3 linked regions of the Homo sapiens genome follow. The protein of the gene in region 3 purifies or fractionates together with the protein of the main gene of each other region. This does not show direct contact. Each region holds a gene or a part of one and is shown on either strand. Other genes may lie near its edges.

What was found.
Region 1: the proteins of CPNE3 (region 3) and KDM3B purify together in Homo sapiens (affinity purification with mass spectrometry; one large-scale study listed by BioGRID and IntAct). This does not show direct contact.
Region 2: the proteins of CPNE3 (region 3) and COLGALT1 fractionate together in Homo sapiens (co-fractionation; one large-scale study listed by BioGRID). This does not show direct contact.

Annotation. Positions count from the first base shown.
Region 1 is NC_000005.10:138,359,051-138,362,703, forward strand, and holds part of KDM3B (lysine-specific demethylase 3B), read left to right. Parts: intron 1-3,653. UniProt on the Homo sapiens protein: Histone demethylase that specifically demethylates 'Lys-9' of histone H3, thereby playing a central role in histone code. Demethylation of Lys residue generates formaldehyde and succinate. May have tumor suppressor activity.
Region 2 is NC_000019.10:17,569,142-17,572,794, forward strand, and holds part of COLGALT1 (procollagen galactosyltransferase 1 precursor), read left to right. Parts: intron 1-2,829; exon of another isoform or gene 2,830-2,850; intron 2,851-3,341; coding exon 3,342-3,461; intron 3,462-3,653. UniProt on the Homo sapiens protein: Beta-galactosyltransferase that transfers beta-galactose to hydroxylysine residues of type I collagen. By acting on collagen glycosylation, facilitates the formation of collagen triple helix. Also involved in the biosynthesis of collagen type IV.
Region 3 is NC_000008.11:86,517,309-86,520,961, forward strand, and holds part of CPNE3 (copine-3), read left to right. Parts: intron 1-3,653. UniProt on the Homo sapiens protein: Calcium-dependent phospholipid-binding protein that plays a role in ERBB2-mediated tumor cell migration in response to growth factor heregulin stimulation.

The sequences.
Region 1 (3,653 bases), on a different chromosome or scaffold from region 3:
TTTTGTTCTTGCGATAGTTTACTGAGAATGATGATTTCCAATTTCATCCATGTCCCTACAAAGGACATGAACTCATCATTTTTTATGGCTGCATAGTATTCCATGGTGTATTTATTTATTTTTTTTTTTTAGACACAGTCTTACTGTGTCAGCCAGGCTGGAGTGCAGTGGTGCGGTCTTGGCTCACTGCAACCTCCACCTCCAGAGTTCAAGTGATTCTCCTGGCTTAGTCTCCTGCGTAGTTGTGATTACAGGCGTGTGCCACCATGCCCGGCTAATGTTTGTATTTTTAGTAGAGACAGGGTTTCGCCATGTTGTCCAGGCTGGTCTTGAACTCCTGACCTCAGCTGATCTGCCTATCTCAGCCTCCCAAAGTGCTGGGATTACAGGTGTGAGCCACCGTGCCCCCCCCACCTTTTTTTTTTTTTTTTTTTTTTTAAGAGATTGGGTCTCACAGTTTTGCCCAGGCTGGTTTCAAACCCCTGGCCTTAAGTGATCCACTCAGCTCGGCCTCCCAAAGTGCTTGGATTACAGGCATGAGCCACTGCACTTGGCCTGGAATATTTTTGTAATTGGCAAGTGAGATGAGGGACCTAATTTGTTTTCTGCTGAGTGACCAGTTGTGGCAACACTAATTTTTTTAGGTAAACCATTCTTTTCTTTCTGTAGGTGTAATTAAATGATGCTGTACATGTAGTATCACTTGGTTTTGAATGTGTATCATAGTTATCTCATGTATCCAGAAGTTACCAGAGAAGTGAAAGCATATCCGCCCTATTTTTTTTTATCCCTTAATCTTTCATCTCTCTTTCAAGGAAAGACGGATTCTAAAATACTCCTTTCCTTTGATTAGAGATAATGTAATAATTGTAGCAATGTCTAGGCTAGTACTATGTTTCTTCTATCTGAGAGTCTTCCAGGAGGAGTGAAAGTGTATCTGCCTTCTGTTTTTACACCTCCCCACCGAACCTTTCCTCTGTCTCAGGGTGGGGTAGGTAGACTCTAAAATACCTCTCTATTTTGTTTCTAAATAATGTAATAATTATAGTCAGGTTCAGGATAGTACTATATTTACCGTATTTCCAGTGTACAATTCGCTACCTATGGTCAAACATAGAATTTCAGCCCTAGTTGAAATGGGAGTTTGTGGTTTTAAAAATGTTTGTGTCCTTTCATTACTTACAATTCCAAAAGTTGAAACTCTGAGTGATACCTTGATACTTATGCTCTATTTATTAATGTAAATAGAATATGTTTTTGTGATTCTGTGTATGGTTAGAGAACTTTAAATAAAAATGACATTGTACTTTTTGACATTAAGACTATATACTGTTTAATTGTGAGCCCGTCTAAGCACACTCATCATCTTAACTCTCCCCTTACAGCATCAGGTCTGTTTTTGAAACACTGAGCCATGGTTGAGTTTTTCAGACACTCAAGCACTTTGTATAGTTGATTTTTTAAAAAAAGATTGTGTGTGTGTGTGTGTGTGTGTGTGTGTGAATTTTAATAGTTCTATTTCTTTTTTTTTTTTTTTTTTTGAGACGGAGTCTCACTTTCACCCAGGCTGGAGTGCAGTGGCACATTGTCGGCTTGCTGCAACCTCCACCTCCCGGGTTCAAGTGATTCTCCTGCCTCAGCCTCTTGAGTAGCTGGGATTACAGGCAAGTAACTCGGATTACAGGTGCCTGCCACCACACCTGGCTAATTTTTGTAGTTTTAATAGAGACAGGGTTTTACCATGTTGGCCAGGCTGGTCTCGAACTCCTGACCGCAAGTGATCTGTCTGCCTTGGCCTCCCAAAGTGCTGGGATTACAGGCGTGAGCCACCACGCCCGGCCATTAATTTCCATTTGTTTCTAAGGGACTTGCTTCACTAACTCCCCACCTGCCAAGGGTTCATTCCCTTTTTTTTAAATACACAGCTTCCTGGGTCTCTTCTCCAACTTGTAGTTTATTTATTTAGTTCCCCTTCCACCAGCAGACTCAAAATGGTGGGTAAGAAACATGGCATTTTCCATTGTGATTTTCTTTGCAACAGCTGGGGTGGGTTCTATATAGGCTTTGCTTCCACAAGGCCTGGGGGATGCAACACCTGTTGATGCTTCTCAGTTTTCCACTGCCTTTGACAGGTTGGTGGTTTTTAAGCCCTTTCCACTGTACCATCCCTACTGCCCCTGGTGCGAAAGCATCATCTTTTGCTCTTGATCTCTAGGTGGGTAAAACCTGCCTGATTAGTAGTGATTCAGATAGTGTGACCTCCTTCAGTTTTCTAAGGGCTGAAACTCCTTTTTTTTTTTTTCCTTTTTTCATGACTTCAGAGGTAATCAGGCTCTAGGGGACTGATTCTCTCTAACCAAACTCTGGAGACTGAATTGTAAATCCACATGCAAGGTTATTAATTTACAGTGGGAGGTATACCTATCCAGAGATCTGCATAGAGCCCCTTCCTGCTCTGCTCTAGAGACCAAATTACTATAAGAAGGGTCCTTGATGTGCAAAGAATTGGACAAGGGAAATTGGGTGTTGCCAAAAGGCTGTTTAAAGCAAGCAGCCTTGATTTTGGTGATCCTTCACTTTTCTAGTATTTTCTGGCTTCCGTTGCTTTGTTCCTTCTTTAAACTTTTCTTTTAATGCTGTCATCCATTGAAATCCTATACAGAGAAAAGAAAGCCTGCTCATCCTTCAGGCCCATGCATCCTAGGAGCTACAAACCCTATAAAGCCTTTCTGATTCCCCAGCATGTTGTTTTTATTCTTTGTTCCTTTAGCACTTTGTGGATACCACTTTTTGGAATATTTATTGTAGTTTTTCTTGTTATAGATATGTGTAGCAAGATGTATAGCTTGTGAAGAAGTTCAGGAAACGCCACCCCAAAATATGCTGCATTGGATCTCAAACTGAAGGCACTTGGGGAGCAGCAGATGGAGGGCTGTCTCTGAACTTACTTCATCTACCTAAAGACACATCCTCCAAAAGGAACTCTAGGCCGGGCGCTGTGGCTCACGCCTGTAATCCCAGCACTTTGGGAGGCTGAGGTGGGCGGATCACTTGAGGCCAGGAGTTCGAGACCAGTCTGGCCGACATGACAAAACCCTGTCTCTACTAAAAAATACAAAAATTAGCCGGGCATGGTGGCGCACGTAATCCCTGCTACTCGGGAGGCTGAGGCACAAGAATGGCTTGAACCTGGGAGGCAGAGGTTGCAGTGAGCCAAGATTGCACCACTGTACTCCAGCCTGAAAAAAAAAACAAAAGAAGGAACTCTATTGTCATGAATCCCTTCCCTGCTAACCTTATGAACCAGGGAAGATTAATTCCTATCACAGGAGATGAGACTGGAGGTCTATATCACATGCAGAAAGACAGCCTTAGCTGTCACCTGTTCTTCTGAGGGCCCATTGATTTTTTTTTCCCAAAAATCATTAAGTCGGGTGCAGTGGTGTGCACCTATAGGGAGGATCACTTGAGCCCAGGATATATATATACATATATGTGTATACACACACACACACACACACACACACACACACACAAAATATCTTAAGTGAATAGTGTACGTGGTTTACTCTCCCCTAAGTTGCCTATAAGAAATATAGAAATATAATTATTTCTATGGTTTTGTTATATAATTATTTCTATAATTTTATTAT
Region 2 (3,653 bases), on a different chromosome or scaffold from region 3:
GCGGAAGTTGCAGTGAGCCGAGATCATGCCACTGCACTCCAGCCTGGGCAACAAAGTAAGAATCCTTCTCAAGAAAAAAATACCTATTGATTGCATGTTACTATTATTTTTTAATTTGTGTAAATTTATGGAGCACAAGTGTAATTTTGTCACGTGCATAGATTGTGAAGTGGTGAGTCAAGAGATTTTAGGGCATCCATCCCCAAATAATATACATTGAACCCGTTACACAATTTTCCATGATCAACCCCAAATGTTATTTCAATCTTCATACTTTTCTATATTCTCCCAATTTTCTTTTGTTTTTTTTTTTTGAAGTAGAGTCTTGCTCTGTCACCTAGGCTAGAGTGCAGTGGTGCGATCTCGGCTCACTGCAACCTCTGCCTCCTGGTTCAAGAGATTCTCCTGCCTCAGCCTCCCAAGTAGCTGGGATTACAGGCATACGCCACCATGTCTGGCTCATTTTTATATTTATAGTAGAGACAGGGTTTCCCCAGGTTGGCCAGGCTGGTCTCAAACTCCTGACCCCAGGTGATCCGCCCACCTCGGCCTCCCAAAGTGCCGGGATTACAGGAGGGAGCCACTGCACCTGGGCCATTCTCCTAATTTTCTACAGTTGAGCATATATTAATTGTTTAATTGGGAAAACAAATATTTAAAGAGACAGCACAGCCTCATGTTGACTTGTTGTTTACTGGAAACCAGAGGTTGGCAAACTGACCTGCAGGCCAAACCTGGCCCACTAATTACTTTTTTTTTTTTTTTTTTTTTGAGACGGAGTCTCGCTCTGTCGCCCAGGCTGGAGTGCAGTGGCCCGATCTTGGCTCACTGTAAGCTCCGCCTCCTGGGTTCACGCCATTCTCCTGCCTCAGCTTTCCGCGTAGCTGGGACTACAGGCACCAGCCACCAGGCCCGGCTAATTTTTGTATTTTTAGTAGAGACGGGGTTTCACTGTGTTAGCCAGGATGGTCTTGATCTCTTGACCTTGTGATCTGCCCACCTCGGCCTCCCAGAGTGCTGGGATTACAGGCGTGAGCCACCGCGCCTGGCCCCACTAATTACTTTTATATGGCCACAAGCTAACAACAACTTTTATATTTTATTTTTATTTTTTTAGAGACACAGTCTTACTCTGTCACCCAGCCTGGAGTGCAGTGGTGTGATCGTAGCTCACTGCAGCCTCAACCTCCTGGGCTCAAGCAATCCTCTCATCTCAGCCTCCAGACTGGCTGGGGCTATAGGCACCTGCCTACATGCCCAGCTAATTGAAAAAAAAAATGTTTTTGTAGAGATGGGGTCTTGCTATGTTGCCCAGACTAGACTTGAACTCCTGGCCTTAAGTGATCCTTCCCACCTCAGCCTCCCAAAGCGCTAGGAATACAAACGTGAGCTACGGTGCCTGGCCAACAATTTTTACATTTTTATTATTTATTTATTTATTTGACACAGGGTCTCCCTCCGTTGCCCAGGCTGGAGTACAGTGGCATGATCTCAGCTCACTGCAACCTCCACCTCCCAGGTTCAATTGATTCTCCTGCCTTAGCCTCCCTAGTAGCTGGGACTACAGGTGTGCACCACCACGCCTGGCTAATTTTTGTATTTTTAGTAGAGATGGGGTTTTGCCTGTTGGCCAGGCTGGTCTCGAACTCCTGACCTCAGGTGATTCACCCGCCTCAGCCTCACAAAATGCTGGGATTACGGGCATGAGCCACCACACCCGGCCAATTTTTACATTTTTAAATCACTGGGGAAAAGAATCAAAAGAAGAAGAATATTGTGACACATGAAAACTGTATGAAATTCAGATTTCATTGCCCATCAATAAAGTGTCATCAGTACCCAGCCAAGCCCATTCATTTAAGTGTCGTCTGTAGCTGCTTTCAAGTGCCACAGGCAGAACAGAGTCATTGAGATAGAAACCGTCTGGCACACAAGCCTAAAATACTTACCACCTGGCCCTTTATAGAAGAAATTGACCAATTAAAATTAAAAGAGGCCGGGTGTAGTGGCTCATGCCTGTAATCCCAGCACTTTGGGAGGGTGAGGTGGGTGGATCACATGAGGTCAAGAGTTTGAGGCCAGCCTGGCCAACATGGTGAAACCCGTCTCTGCTAAAAATACAAAAATTGGCTGGGCATGGTGGTGGGTGCCTGTAGTCCCAGCTACTTGGGAGGCTGAGGCACAAGAATTGTTTGAACCCAGGAGGCAGTGAACGGAGATCACACCACTGCAATCCAGCCTGGGCGACAGAGCGAGACTCTGTCTCAAAAAAAATAAATAAATTAAATTAAAAGAGCATCATTGAGTTTTTTAGTCTAAAAAAGATACACACTTGGCTGGGCTCAGTGGATCACTTGAGGTCAGGATTTCGAGACCAGCCTGGCCAACGTGGTGAAACCCCACCTCTACTAAAAAAAAATACAGAAATTAGCTGGGTGTGGTGGCGGGTGCCTGTAATCCCAGCTACTTGGGAGGCTGAGGCAGGAGAATTGCTTGAACCCCAGAGGCGGAGGTTGCAGTGAGCCGAGGTGGCACCACTGAACTCCAGCCTGGGCGACAGAACGAGACTCTGTCTCAAAAAAAAAGATACACACTCATCAAAATTTAAACCATCCAGAAAAGGATAGATGTAGAAGGAAGTAACTTAACTCACATTTTGTCAAACTTTCCTTTTTGTGCCTCAACATGCATTTTTACTGTTTTTTTTTTGGGTTTGTTTTTGAGACAGGGCCTTGCCCTGTTGCCTAAGCTGGAGTGCAGTGTGCCATCATAGCTCATGGCAGCCTCAAGTCTCCTGGGCTCAAGTGATCCTCCTGCCACAGCCTCCCGAGGAGCTGGGACCATAGGCAGGTACCACCATTCCCAGCTAATTTTAAAATTATTTGTAGAGCCGGGCGTGGTGGCTCATACCTGTAATCCCAGCACTTCAGGAGGCCAAGACAGGTGGATCGCGAGGTCAGGAGATCGAGACCATCCTGGCTAACATGATGAAACCCCGTCTCTACAAATACAAAAAATTAGCCAGGCATGGTGGCATGTGCCTGTAGTCTCAGCTACTAGGGAGGCTGAGGCAGGAGAATCACTTGAACCCGGGAGGCGGAGGTTGCAGTGAGCCAAGGTAGTGCCACTGCACTCCAGCCTGGGAGAGTGAGACTCTGTCTTAAAAAAAAAAAAAAGTTGTTTGTAGATATAAGGTCTTGCTCTGTTGCCCAGGCTGGTCTCAGACACCTGACCTCAAGCGATCCTCCTGCGTTGGCCTCCTGAAGCCGTGGGATGGAAGGCATGAGCCACTGGGCCTCGCCTGTTTTTACATTTGTCTGTTGCTTCCCTGCCCACTGCAGAGGTTCAGATGTATGTGTGCAACAAGGAGGAGTACGGATTCTTGCCAGTGCCATTGCGCGCCCACAGCACCCTCCAGGATGAGGCCGAGAGCTTCATGCATGTGCAGCTGGAGGTCATGGGTGAGTCTGCCTGCACACCGCCCTGGGAGGTGCCAGGTTGCCTCCCTTTCACTGATGTCTCAAATCCGTCCCATGAGCACTGACTGAGTGCCAGGCAGATGCAAGTCCCTGTGGGGGGTGCTGGGTGCAACGGCACGTGTGAACGAGGTGGAGGGTTGTGTCTGCTCTCACAGAGTGCTGGTTTGCAGGTAG
Region 3 (3,653 bases):
ACTCATTTTAGTAAATCATTTTGAAATGTCTCTTGCAAATGGTTGTATTATATCTAGTTCCTGTGAAAATTACCAGAGCAACTGTGTGGTTTTCTGGACACATTGTTATCCGGCTATTTCACCTTCCCTGGCTTTTAGTTTACCACGCCTTTAGACTTCAAGGTGACGGTCAGTACCTGTTAAAAGAGGTACCTGCAACTGTAAAGAGGAACTTACTTATCTGTCCACATTTTCATGTTTATGTGTCAGAATTTTTTAAAAAGAAGTGAAAATTAAGACAAATACTTCCTGATGGTATTGTCAAAACAATTTTATAAAATATGTAAAATTGCACCCCACCTTCAGTACTTCTTGTTCTCCTTCTTTATTGTTCCCTGTAGCACTTACTGCCACCTAATATACTATATATGTTACTTATTTGTCTTCATTGTTGTCTGCCTTCCTGCAGTGTAACTAACCTCTCCCTGATGGGGATGGTGGCCTGCTTTGTTTATTGTTGGCTCTCCAGCACCTTAGAACAGTGCCTGACACACAGTAGGCAATCTATAATATTTGTTCAATAAGTGTTGAATGAATTAATAGTACTATTAAACTGCTCATGATTGGGAAATATAAAGGGATTTGCCCTAATTAAAAACAGCTGAAACGATGTGTTAAGCAACCAGGACATGAATATTCTTGAAATCAGGAAATGTATAAACATCTCAACAGCCTTTGCCCAATATACAAACTTTTTAAACCTTGAGAACCACATGGTTGTGGTTGTTGCTGCTTTAAACTGAAGGCATTTTTAGATTATTTGTTCACCGTGAACTAGAAAGGAGCACACGGTGATGAATTGTGAAGTGCCCATCTTGCCCAATTAAATATACATGCTCCCCTACAAAGAAAAGGAAAGGAGTCAAATTTTGGAAAGCATGCATTTAGAGTCGGGGCATGGTGGACACCAGGGCAGGTGAGAGGTTCTGGTGGCTGGTTCAACATCTGGGAAATTCCAGAAGGGGGGAAATTCTTAATGTGGTCTGAGGGGAATGAGAACCCCAGGAGACTTCAGTCTTCACAGGTTGGTGTACCTTAATATCAGATCCAGCCTGCCTGCTGCACAGCTGGCCAGCAGCTTTACTTAGTCCTTATAATGGAAAACTTTTCAACTGAACACTTGGGATTTTCAGCTAGGGGATGCAGCACTGATTTTCATTGAGGGTAAACGGTGATTCACTTTGTAGACATGTATTTTATAGCCAGCTTTGCCAAGATGCATGTTCCATAAAGTGGGACAGTAGTGAGACATCACCACTGCTTCTTTTTTTCTTAAGCCAGTCAAATTTAGCAGTAGGGGGTGTATACCAACTTTAGCAACACTGATGTTAGTAAGTTCTTATTTTTAACTTTTTAACTTTAATTTTATTTTTTCTGCTTAGGTAGCTAATAAGTTCTGATAGCCCTTCTTTTTTAAAAAAAAATATTTATTTATTTATTTGTGAGATGGGACCTCACTCTGCCACCCAGGTTGGAGTGCAGTGGCATGATCTCGGCTCACTGCAACCTCCACCTCCCAGGCTCAAGCAATCCCACCTCAGCCTCCAGAATGACTGGGACCACAGGCACACCCCACCACACCTGGCTAATTTTTGTATTTTTGGTAGAGATGGGGTTTAGCCATGTTGTCCAGGCTGCTGTTGAGCTCCAGCCATCTGCCTGCCTCAGCCTCCCAAAGTACTGGGATTATAAGCATCAGCCACCGTGCCTGGCCCAACCCTGCTTCTATTAATAACTTTTATTAATACCTCACTAAATGAACCTATGATGAACTGTTGAATTGATGGACTTGAAAATACAATCAGTGATACTTCCAAAATGTATATACAGTAGCCAAGGGATTAGAAAAGTGGTAAAACCTGAAACATATGTTAAGTAAACTTTGTAGCCAGTTATGAATCATGGAATAGAACAATACCAGGATTTTAGAGAAATTAATGAAGGGTCTTTAGTTGATTGCTTACTTTGTAATGATAAAGAGAAGGTAAAACTGCACCTACTTTTTATTTTTGAAGTTAGAGTGATCACACCTGTTAATTCCTGCTTTCCTCCGTTCTGCATGTCCAAGCATCAGCAATGGTATCACTATTTAGATCCTGCTCAAGATAGTTTAAGAATCTGGAAACTTTTTGAAGTGTGGCTAAAAGCTGATTTATTTTGCTGCCATGATAGATGCTAAGAGCTTAATAATGTGAGATTTCATGGATGCTAATAAAATTTATTTCCTTATTGTGCTGCATCTACTTAATAGACTGGGCCCTGTGGTTTGTTTGTTTATTTAAGTCATCTGAGCACTTAATAACAATTTTGAGCAAAGGTACCTAACTAGTGGAGAAGTTTCTAGATACATTTTTTTCAGATATAGCTTTTTTTGTTTTGTTTTGAAATGGAATTTGGCTCTTTTTGCCCAGGCTGGAGTGCAATGGCACGATCTTGGCTCACTGCAACCTCCGCCTCCCTGGTTCAAGCGATTCTCCTGCCTCAGCCTCCCATGTAGCTGGGATTACAGGTGGGCGCCATCATGCCCAGCTAATTTTGTATTTTTAGTAGAGATGGGTTTCACCATGTTGGCCAGGATGGTCTTGAACTACTGACCTCAGACCATCCGCCCGCCTCAGCCTCCCAAAGTGCTGGGATTACAGGCGTGAGCCACCGCACCTGGCCCCAGATATAGCTTTTTTGATAGAGATGGAGACTGAGTTTGGAAAACTTTATCCTTTTTCTTCCATTTCTCCTTTTTGTACTTATAAATATTCTAATGTTTTCTATTCATTTTAAAAAATCCTTTAGTACCACTTCCTAAACAAGTTCCATATTCACTGTAATTAAATTAGGGTTATAGTACATTAATGGAAAAGACCTTAAGAATTACTTAAAGAAAGGGATTGACTCAACTCTTAGGTTTAACAGCTGAAGGCTGGGCGCAGTGGCTCACGCCTGTAATCTCAGCATTTTGGGAGGCCAAGGTGGGCAGATTACAGGCGGATTACCTGAAGTCAGGAGTTCGAGACCAGCCTGGTCAACATGGTGAAACCCCGTCTCTACTAAAAATACAAAAATTAGCTGGGCGTGATGGCAGCGCCTGTAATCCCAGCAACTCAGGAGGCTGAGGCAGGAGAATCACTTGAACCCAGGAGGCGGAGGTTGCAAGTGAGCCAAGATCTCCATTGCACTCCAGCATGGGCGACAAGAGTGAAAGTCCATCTCAAAAAAAAAAAAGATTTAACAGCTGAAAAAACCTGAAGCCTGGAGAAGTTACAGCAGTTGCCCAAATGCCTGCCATTGTGGTGTGACTAACACAGAACCAGGCATTTCTTTTTTTTTTTTTTTGAGACGGAGTCTTGCTTTGTCACCCAGGCTGGAGTGCAGTGGCGCAATCTTGGCTCACTGCAACCTCTACCTCTGGGTTCAAGTGATTCTCCTGCCTCAGCCTTCCAGGTAGCTGGGACTACAGTGCACCATGCCCAACTAATTTTTGTGTTTTTAGTAGACACAGGGTTTTGCCATGTTGACCAGGCTGGTCTCAAACTCCTGACCTCAGGTGATCTGCCCAGTCCATTTCTTTTGACACCTGATCCAGTGATTCTTCCTTTTTGTTTCTTTTTTGTTTTGTT